Linked DNA regions of Homo sapiens: region 2 is linked to region 1. Evidence: fine-mapped expression QTL. A gene starts in region 1. The other region holds a variant in brackets. All regions are shown on one strand. Distances are between the middles of the regions.

Region 1 (4,372 bases):
CAACATTTATAATGGTTTATAATATTCGTAAATGTTTATGGCAGTATTATTCATAATGGACAAAAAAGAAACCAAATATTTGCCAACTGGAATGGTTACAAACAAAATGTATACCCACACAATCGAATCTTTTATTTATGTATTTATTTATTTATTTTGACAGAGTCTCGCTCTGTCGCCCCGGCTGGAGTGCAGTGGCGAGATCTCCACTCACTGCAAGTTCCGCCTCCCGGGTTCACGCCATTCTCCTGCCTCACCCTCCCGAGTAGCTGGGACTACACGCACCTGCAACCACGCCTGGCTAATTTTTTGTATTTTTAGTAGAGACGGGGTTTCACCGTGTTAGCCAGGACAATCTCGATCTCCTGACTTCGTGATCCGCCCGCCTCGGCCTCCCAAAGTGCTGGGATTACAGGCGTGAGCCACCGCGCCCGGCCCAACAGTTTTTTTTTAAAAGCACTTGGGTTATTGGAAAGTTGGGCAACATGATCACCTGCACAGGGGCTCTGAGTCTTTAACAGTGAAGCATTTCACACCTGATTAGGAAACGCTGTGCTGATGACATGGCACTGACAGTGTGACTCAGTTACAGAAACTCTCAAATATCCCTCCAACATTCAGAAATTTTCAAAAGACACCAAGCTCGGTATTTTGCATAGTTCTGTCCCCAAAAATGCCCTCCTGTGTTCATGTCTGTGTCTGAACAAAGCAGCTGTGCGTGTGTGTGTGCGTGTGGTCTCCACTTCTCTTGATCAGCCTGGGTTGCCTGGCAGTATGGGCCAAACAGACAGGGCCCTGTCTGCATGGAGCTCAAGAGTGATTAAAAGAGGCTGGGTGGCCGGACATGGTGGCTCACACCTGTAATCCTAGCACTTTGGGAGGCTGAGGCAGGAGGATCGCTTGAGCTCAGGGGTTCAAGACCAGCCTGAGCAACATAGTGAGACCCTGTCTGTACAAAAAATAAAAAATTAGCTGGACATGGTGTTGCACACCTGTAGTCCCAGCTACTCGGGAGGCTGAGGTGGAAGGACTGCTTGAGCCCAGGAGATAGAGGCAGCAGTAAGCTGAGATTGTACCACTGCACTCCAGCCTGGGCAAAAGAGCAAGACCCTGTCTTGAAGAAAAAAAAAAAAAAAAAAAAAGATTGGGCACCCCGGTGGTTCATGCCTGTAATCCCAGCGCTTTGGGAGGCTGAGGTGGGTGGATCACCTGAGGTCAGGAATTCGAGACCAGCTTGGCCAACATGGTGAAACCCTGTCGCTACTAAAAATACAAAAATTAGCTGGGCATGTTGGCTCACACTTGTAATCCTAACTACTCGGGAGGCTGAGGCAGGAGAATCGCTTGAACCTGAAAGGTGGAGGTTGCAGTGAGCCGAGATTGTGCCATTGTACTCAAGCCTGGGCGACACTGAGACTACGTCTCAAAAAAATAATCAATCAATAAATAAAAGAGGCGTCCACGTTAACGAGTCCACAGTCCTAACAAGTGCTGCAGGCTGGACGCGGGGCAGCGTCCCACCCAGTGTCTGGTGCAGGGCATTTAGGGGCTTGGCCTCCAGGAGAGGCGAGCCCGGGGCTGGGTGCGAGCACTGCTGCTGGGCCAGGCCACTCACGTTATGCGGCCGTTCCTGATACTTCAACACGGCCCTTGTGGGCGAATGTGTGGAATCTCGGAACAAGCGGAGTGGGGAACAGGGCTCTGCGGTGAAGCCCAGGCTGAGGCAGCCCCTCATCTGCTCACGGTGCCAGGAGCTCCCTGCCTCCTGGTCCTGAGGAGCCGCGGGATTCCTCAGGGACACTAGGGCCTCTGCAGCGGCGCCTGCGCCAGGCAGCCACGCGCGCTGCGCACGAATTCTGTCTCAGCCTGGAGAAAAACACCTCCGCTGCGCCCTCGCCCAGCACCAGCTTTCCGCGGGGCGTGCAAGGGGCTCCTCCTAGCCCCACAGCCCTGTCTTTCCACGGGGGACACCAAGGCCCTGGAACGGCCCGCGCGCCAGCGCTCTCGCCCGTGTTTAACGAGAACTTAATCCCCGTGCCCGTTACCTCCCCGAAGTCCCGGGACTAGGTGACTAGGCCCCGAAGCAAGAGTCGCAGTCGGACCGACTGGGCCGGGGAGGGCAGCGCACTGCACCTGCGCGGGCTTCCACAGCCCACGCGGCCGCCGCAGGCCTCGAGTGGGCGCGGGTTGGGCAGCGGCGAGAGGCGGGACCGGACCTCGCCTCCCGGGTGCGGGCGCCCTGGGCTCGCGTAGGGAAGTGCCCTGGCTTACAGAGGTGACCACTGACGGGGCTTGGGGTGGAAGGTGACGACGCCAGAACCCACGCGGAACGCGCCCACGAGGCCCAGCCGCAAGATGGCGACGGCGTGCCCCCGGCCACCCGCGCGCCGCGCATGCGCCCTGGCCTTCCCCGCCCGAGTGAGCGGAAGTCTCGTGACCCCGGAAGTGACAGGCAGGGCGGGCGGGGCGGCCGACGACGTTCGTCATTTAGTGCGGGAGGGATCCTGAACCGCGCGGCCGAACCCTCCGGTGAGTGGCCGTGGCGGGGCGGAGGCGGCGGGGCGGAGGCGGCGGGTCGGGGCGGGGACCGGCGGCGCCGGCGGGGGCGGGGGGCGCTGAGGTGGGGGCTTCCGCCTTTGTTCGCGCCCCGCCCTGAGCCCGCGGCAGGGTCTCGGCGGGCGGGGGCGCGGTGACAGCGGGCCAGGGCGGTGCGGGCTAGGGCGGGGCCGGGGCGGGACCGGGCGGCGGCGGCCCCGGCCCCACGTGCGGGTCCCGGGCCGGAGGGGCGGCGGGGACCAGGGGAGTGCCGGCCCCTCCCGAGCGGTCCGGAGCTTCTTTCATGGCCGCCGAGGCGCGTGGGGCCCGGGCCAGACCTGAGGGCCCCTCCTTGGGGACGCGGGGGGCGCCGGGCCGGCAGCCGCGGTCCATCGCGTTCGGGGGCGACGCGGGGATTGGGGCGCGGCCTCCCCCAGCGCCCGGGCCACGCCCGGCACGGATTGCGGGCCCTGCGGAAGTGCGGGCCGCGCCCTAGGATCCCGGCGCCTACGGCTATCCTCGCGCGGCGCGGAGGCCCCAGCCCCTGGAGGAAGCAGGGCGGCCTGGACCCCGGCCTGGGTGTCCCGGGTGTGCTGCTCCCTGACCCACCTCCCACGCTGCCGGGAAGGATCTGAGCCTGACAGATCCCCTGCCGGGTCAGTGCTGCCCCGGGCACTCCGGGCCCACCATCTACAAGAGGGCCCGAGAGTACTGAGTGGCTGTGGTAGCTCCCAAGTTGTAGGTCACAGACCCTCACAATTGTGGAGAAACCGCAGATACTTAGGATCCCCGTGTCCAGGTGGCCCCGTGCGGTATTCTAGCTGCCCCTAACATCCGAGCTCCAGGGGCATCCTGTTTGAAAGATGACGCTGAGCCGACCACACACGTTTACATGTGACTACCACGGCCAGAGGAGCAACCCTACTGAGGGATACCGAGCCCCGTTACCCCGTAGGGCGAGGGCCTGGGCAGCTCAAGAGCGGCAAGACCCTAAGAGAGGGTTTAGTGTGGGCCCCGCCGGTTGATTCTGGGGCCTGCTAGCCCCGCCCCACACATACAGGGGGCTGCTGCCTCCTCCATCGTGGAGGGGGAGGTGTGTCCTCTCTCCCCATGATCGGCTGCAGTTCCCATTTTGTCTTAGATGTTATACCTGGGGTGGGGGCACCTCACACTGCCCCAGAGGATGCCCCTGAGCAGGAATCGCGGGGGTGGAGAGGAGCGAAGGTGGCCCCCTTGGAGCCCTTTTGGAGCTCCGGCTGCAGCCCACACTCCTGCTCAGAAGTGCGCCTCCGTTGGGGATCCAGGTCCAAGGCCTGTCACCGTCCCGCCCACAGGTGTCCCGACCCAGGCTAAGCTTGAGCATGGCTGAGCAGGAGCCCACAGCCGAGCAGCTGGCCCAGATTGCAGCGGAGAACGAGGAGGATGAGCACTCGGTCAACTACAAGCCCCCGGCCCAGAAGAGCATCCAGGAGATCCAGGAGCTGGACAAGGACGACGAGAGCCTGCGAAAGTACAAGGAGGCCCTGCTGGGCCGCGTGGCCGTTTCCGCAGGTGAGTCTGGGCTGCGGGAGCCGGGTGGCCGCCCGTTCACTCCAGCTGTCTTGCCGCTCCCCAGCCCCTACTTCCACTGGTGGGGGTGGGGCCCTCACCTGCTGTCACTCCCCAGACCCCAACGTCCCCAACGTCGTGGTGACTGGCCTGACCCTGGTGTGCAGCTCGGCCCCGGGCCCCCTGGAGCTGGACCTGACGGGTGAGTGCCCTGCGGCCGCGGGGGTCCGGGCGGCCCCTGGTGGGGATCTCGGGAAGTGCAGCCAGGGGGCCGCGCAGGGCTGGGGCT
Region 2 (4,372 bases), 62 kb after region 1:
CGGGGAGGGTGGCCAGGCCCAGCAGGTTGTGCAGGTACAGGCCCTCCACCAGCAGCCAGCAGTAGTTGGCCACGATGCCATATTGCATGAACACCGCGGCCACACGGCAGCCAGCCACCGCCTGGTACAGGTGCAGTGTGAGCGCGGCTACGTGGCCACCTGCCTGGCTGCCCACCCACCCACCTGCCTGGGGCCGCCGAGGGGGGCTCACTCCATCACTGAGCCAGGTGCTGACACTGAGGTCGTCGCCAATTTTCTGGCTGTAGCGGGTCCTGAGCAGCCCATCAATGACCAGCACGGAGCTGGCTTTCAGCACGAAGGACGCAAACAGATTCGCGTGGATGGCATTGCGGGTGCAGTGCAGCTTGCTGTGGGCACAGCCAGTCAGCGCCCGTCCTCCTCCCTGTCCTCTGCGGCCGCCCCGGGCGCTGGCGGAATCCTACCTGAGGCCCCCCAGGATGGCCAAGGCGAGGAGCAGGGCCCCCAGGGACAGGCTGTAGCCCACTGTGTACATCACCTGGAAGCTGCTGTACATCTTGGCCACCTCCTTCTGCGAGTTACAGTGGCCTGTGAGGGCCAGGCAGGGGCCCCCATGCCCGTTCCCATCCAGCCCCACCGCGCCTGCCTGCCGCCCACTGACCTGGACCTCAATCTCCTCGCCATCCATCTGGCACTGGGAGGCATCACGCCAAGGCTGCCCCCGGGGTCCACGCACCCACTGACCGTCGGGCCCGCATCTCTTGAACACGAAGCGGTGTTGCACTGGGGGTGTGGGGGGAGGCTGGGGTCAGCCCCACCCTGGGCCCGCCCCCCCCACAGTTCCTCCCCTCTATGGGTACCTTTGTGGTGCCAAGGCAGGTACCAGGGGCAGGAGATGTTGGCCGTGGTATTGGCGGGGGTGTCCGGCCAGCAGGAATACTTGTCGAAGGTTCTGTTGCACACCAGCTCTGCAGGGTAGGGTAGGGCAGGGCAGAGCAGGGCAGGGCAGGGTGGGAGAAGGGGCTCCCTCAGCAGGCCTCTCTCCTCTCTCTGGAAGCCTGAGCTCGGCCGTCACCTCGCCCAGGACATGGCCTGGGCTGCTCCCTCCCCCACTTGACCTCCACCTCCCCCATCTGACCTCCACCTTCCTCACCTGACCATCCACCTCCCCTGGACCAGCCTCCGCTAGCACGCCCAGCCCAGCCCTGAATTGCAGCTCTGCAGGACACCTTCCCTTGGAGACCCCCCATCTCAAATGTGCCCCAAACCCACACTGGGGTCCCCCATTCTCCGTGACCTTCTCTCAGCACCTCCCTCTCTGGGGGCTGAACCCCAATGCCATTTTCATCCTTCCCAGGTGCATCGCCAAACCTGTGGCTGCCACATCTGCTCCCTCTGCCCAATGGAGGCTGCCACACCTGCCCCCCTCTGCCCAGTGGTGGCTGCCTCCCTCATCCGAACCCAGGCACTGCCTCCCGGGTGAGTCCTCCAGCCCTATCCTCTCCCTGCACCCCAAGTGTCCAGGCCATGATATACACTCTCCACCCGAGCCCTCCCAGGCCCCTGGGTCCCAGCTTCCACGCCCTGGCACTGTCTGCCCACTGAAAACTCCACGGGGCTGTAGGTGGTATTACCCATCTGGGCCTGGGGGCAGCAGCAGCAGCCGGTTCTGGGGCAATGCCACCGTTCTGTTATTTCCTGGCTCTGCGGCCTGAGGCAAGTCCCCAGCTCTGTGGCTCAGTTACCTCGTTACCTCACCTGCCCACGGTGGTGGGGGCCTGAGGAATGACAGGGCCCCTTGGCGGGGTCCTCAAAGGCTGCATAAGCACCCAGGAACCTTCCCATGAAGAGAACTCAGGAAGTGCTGAGGCCAGGCACAGGCTGAAAGGCTCTGGGTGGGGGGCTCACCCGTGGGAGGGGGCAGCAGGCTCAGGTTGTGGTGACACTGGTCACCGTAGAGCTTCCACTTCTCAAACAGGAAGTCCATCACCTGAGCGGAGGGGACCTGTGGCTGGGGGACACATGCACAAGCAACCAGACAGACAGACA[GAC/C]AGGCAGGCAGACAGACAGGCAGACAGACAGGCAGACAGGCAGGCAGGTAGATGGATAGGCAGATGGACAGACAGGCAGACAGACAGGCAGACAGGCAGACAGACAGGCAGGCAGACGGACAGACAGATAGGCAGGCAGATGGATAGGCAGATGGACAGACGGACAGACAGGCAGACGGACAGGCAGACAGACAGGCAGACGGGCAGACAGGCAGACAGGCAGGCAGACAGGCAGGCAGACGGACAGGCAGACGGACAGGCAGGCAGACAGGCAGGCAGACAGACAGGCAGGCAGGCAGACGGACAGGCAGACGGACAGGCAGGCAGACGGACAGGCAGACAGGCAGACGGACAGACAGGCAGCAGACAGACAGGCAGGCAGGCAGGCCGACAGACAGGCAGGCAGATGGATAGGCAGATGGACAGATGGACAGGCAGACAGACAGGCAGACGGACAGGCAGACAGGCAGGCAGATGGATAGGCAGATGGACAGATGGACAGACAGACGGACAGGCAGACAGACAGGCAGATGGGCAGGCAGACGGGCAGACAGACAGACAGGCAGGCAGACAGGCAGGCAGGCAGGCAGGCAGACAGAGAGCCATCAGTGTGCAGTCCTCACAGGAGGGCCCCTGGGTGCTGAGGGTGCTGTGAGTCCTCACCTGGCAGGCCAGCAGCAGCAGCAACAGCAGCAGGGGTCGCTGTGGCTGGCAGGGGGGCATGCCTCTGGGCAGCTAGCTGCCTCCCACATCTGGCAGGGGCTGCACAGCTGGGGCAATGCAGTCCTGGTGGGTGTGTACGCTCCTCCGAGGGCAGCTGAGTGGCAGAGCAGCAGAGCCTGGGGCGTCCTGGCCAGTGGGGTGTCCTCCCCTGAAGCTGCCCCTCTGAGCCTCAGGGTCCTAGGGATAAAGAGGGAGCTGGGGGCCGGGCGCGGCGGCTCACGCCTGTAATCCCAGAACTTTGGGAGGCCGAGGGGGGTGGATCACGAGGTCTGGAGATCGAGACCATCCTGGCTAACACAGTGAAACCCCGTCTCTACTAAAAATACAAAAAATTAGCCAGGCGTGGTGGCGGGCGTCTGTAGTCCCAGCTACTCGGGAGCTTGAGGCAGGAGAATGGCGTGAACCCGGGAGGCAGAGCTTGCAGTGAGCGGAGATCAAGCCATTGCAGTCCAGCCTGGGTGACAGAGCGAGACTCCGTCTCAAAAAAAAAAAAAAAAAAAAAGAGGGCGATAGGAGGGAGGAGACCCCAGGAGGAGTCACTCTTGCCACCCAGGGCTGGCTGGCTGGCAGCTCTGAGGGTCGCAGAGCCCCTCGTCTCATTGCTGGTGGCAGCCACCTTCCTGCAGGTTGACCCAATGCTCTTGGGTGGGGGACCAGCCTCCCCAGATGGTGACCTCCTCCCTCAGTTGACAGCCCCCGGCTGCTTCCTCACCATCCTCCTCACCTATTCTTAGCCCCTGGGAAAGCTGGCTTGCCAGGCTGACCTGAGCCAATGTGCCAAGCGTGAGGGTGGCGGTGCCTGGACCTTCCATCACTTGGCCCCAGTGCCACAGCGAGCAAAGTGGCTGGGCTGGCTTGCAGCTGTGCCAGGCCAAGTGTGTGGGGCCCACACTCAGGGGTCTGTGTCACATGTGTGCCCCCTGCCCAGCACCGGGGTGCCTAGGTGCCTCGTGGGTGCCGTGCAAGGCTCGGTTGGGCTTCCTGGATCCCATGGGACGCCACAGGCTGGCTGCACAGTCCTTTGAGGTTAGCACTGCGGGCGTCGACTTGGAGGAGGAGCTGGCCTAGGGTGGGGGCACAGGGTGGGGAGGACATCCCCCGTGGTGCCTGCCAGGGCTGTGGGAGTCACAGCCCCTGGTCCCCATGCCACAGCCAGCATCTGAGCTGGGAGTTCGGGGTGGCAACAGCTACACAAATCGGCCTTTCGTTGCTACAGAGCCCAGTTTCTGCACCAACTGAATTCTGTGGGAGAAGCAGGGAGGGTCTTCCTGTGGGTCCACGTGCATGTGCGGGGTCCCGCGAGTGGCTGGCTATGAGCCCCCGGGCTGTTACGGGCTCTTCTTTGGGGCACCCTCAAATGGAATAAGAGGTGTGGATGGATGGCTGGGCAGATGGAGGGCCAGCCAGCTGGAAGGCAGTGCCAGGGGGAAGCCGGGGAGAGGGGCAAGGAGATGGGCGAAGGCTGCAGCTGGAGCAGAGGGTTTCCGGGCAGGCCTGGACTGCTGGCTGCCACGGGACAGCCTGGATTTTAGCCTCCTCCAGGTAGCGGCTGGGTGAGCCCGCGTGGGGCCAGCTCCACCCAGGGCTGCCCCGCTAACGGGGCCTGAGATGCCCCAAGC

Direction of the effects. Alleles are on the strand shown, and positions count from the first base shown. SD is a standard deviation of normalised expression in the study named.
For the expression in neutrophils of the gene that starts at base 2,490 in region 1, allele GAC in region 2 goes with a higher level than allele C (large effect, 0.93 SD a copy in BLUEPRINT).

What was found.
Region 2: its variant is fine-mapped to the expression of ARHGDIA in neutrophils (BLUEPRINT, PIP 0.95).

The regions. Positions count from the first base shown.
Region 1 is chr17:81,869,455-81,873,826 of GRCh38, reverse strand. It overlaps ARHGDIA (Rho GDP dissociation inhibitor alpha), which reads left to right and starts at 2,490. Exons shown (of 6, transcript NM_004309.6): 1 at 2,490-2,529; 2 at 3,870-4,086; 3 at 4,202-4,285. The coding sequence starts at 3,897. RefSeq lists enhancers at 1,343-1,442, 1,893-1,962, 3,903-4,082 and silencers at 2,143-2,552, 2,753-3,182, 4,213-4,372.
Region 2 is chr17:81,807,400-81,811,771 of GRCh38, reverse strand. GCGR (glucagon receptor) reads right to left here. Exons shown (of 14, transcript NM_000160.5): 2 at 2,694-2,930; 3 at 1,888-1,990; 4 at 840-947; 5 at 641-762; 6 at 444-550; 7 at 212-368; 8 at 1-121. The coding sequence starts at 2,753. Among named protein-coding and RNA genes, the nearest start is that of GCGR, 5.4 kb to the right of the region's middle. The variant GAC/C (reference allele first, on the strand shown) is at 2,029.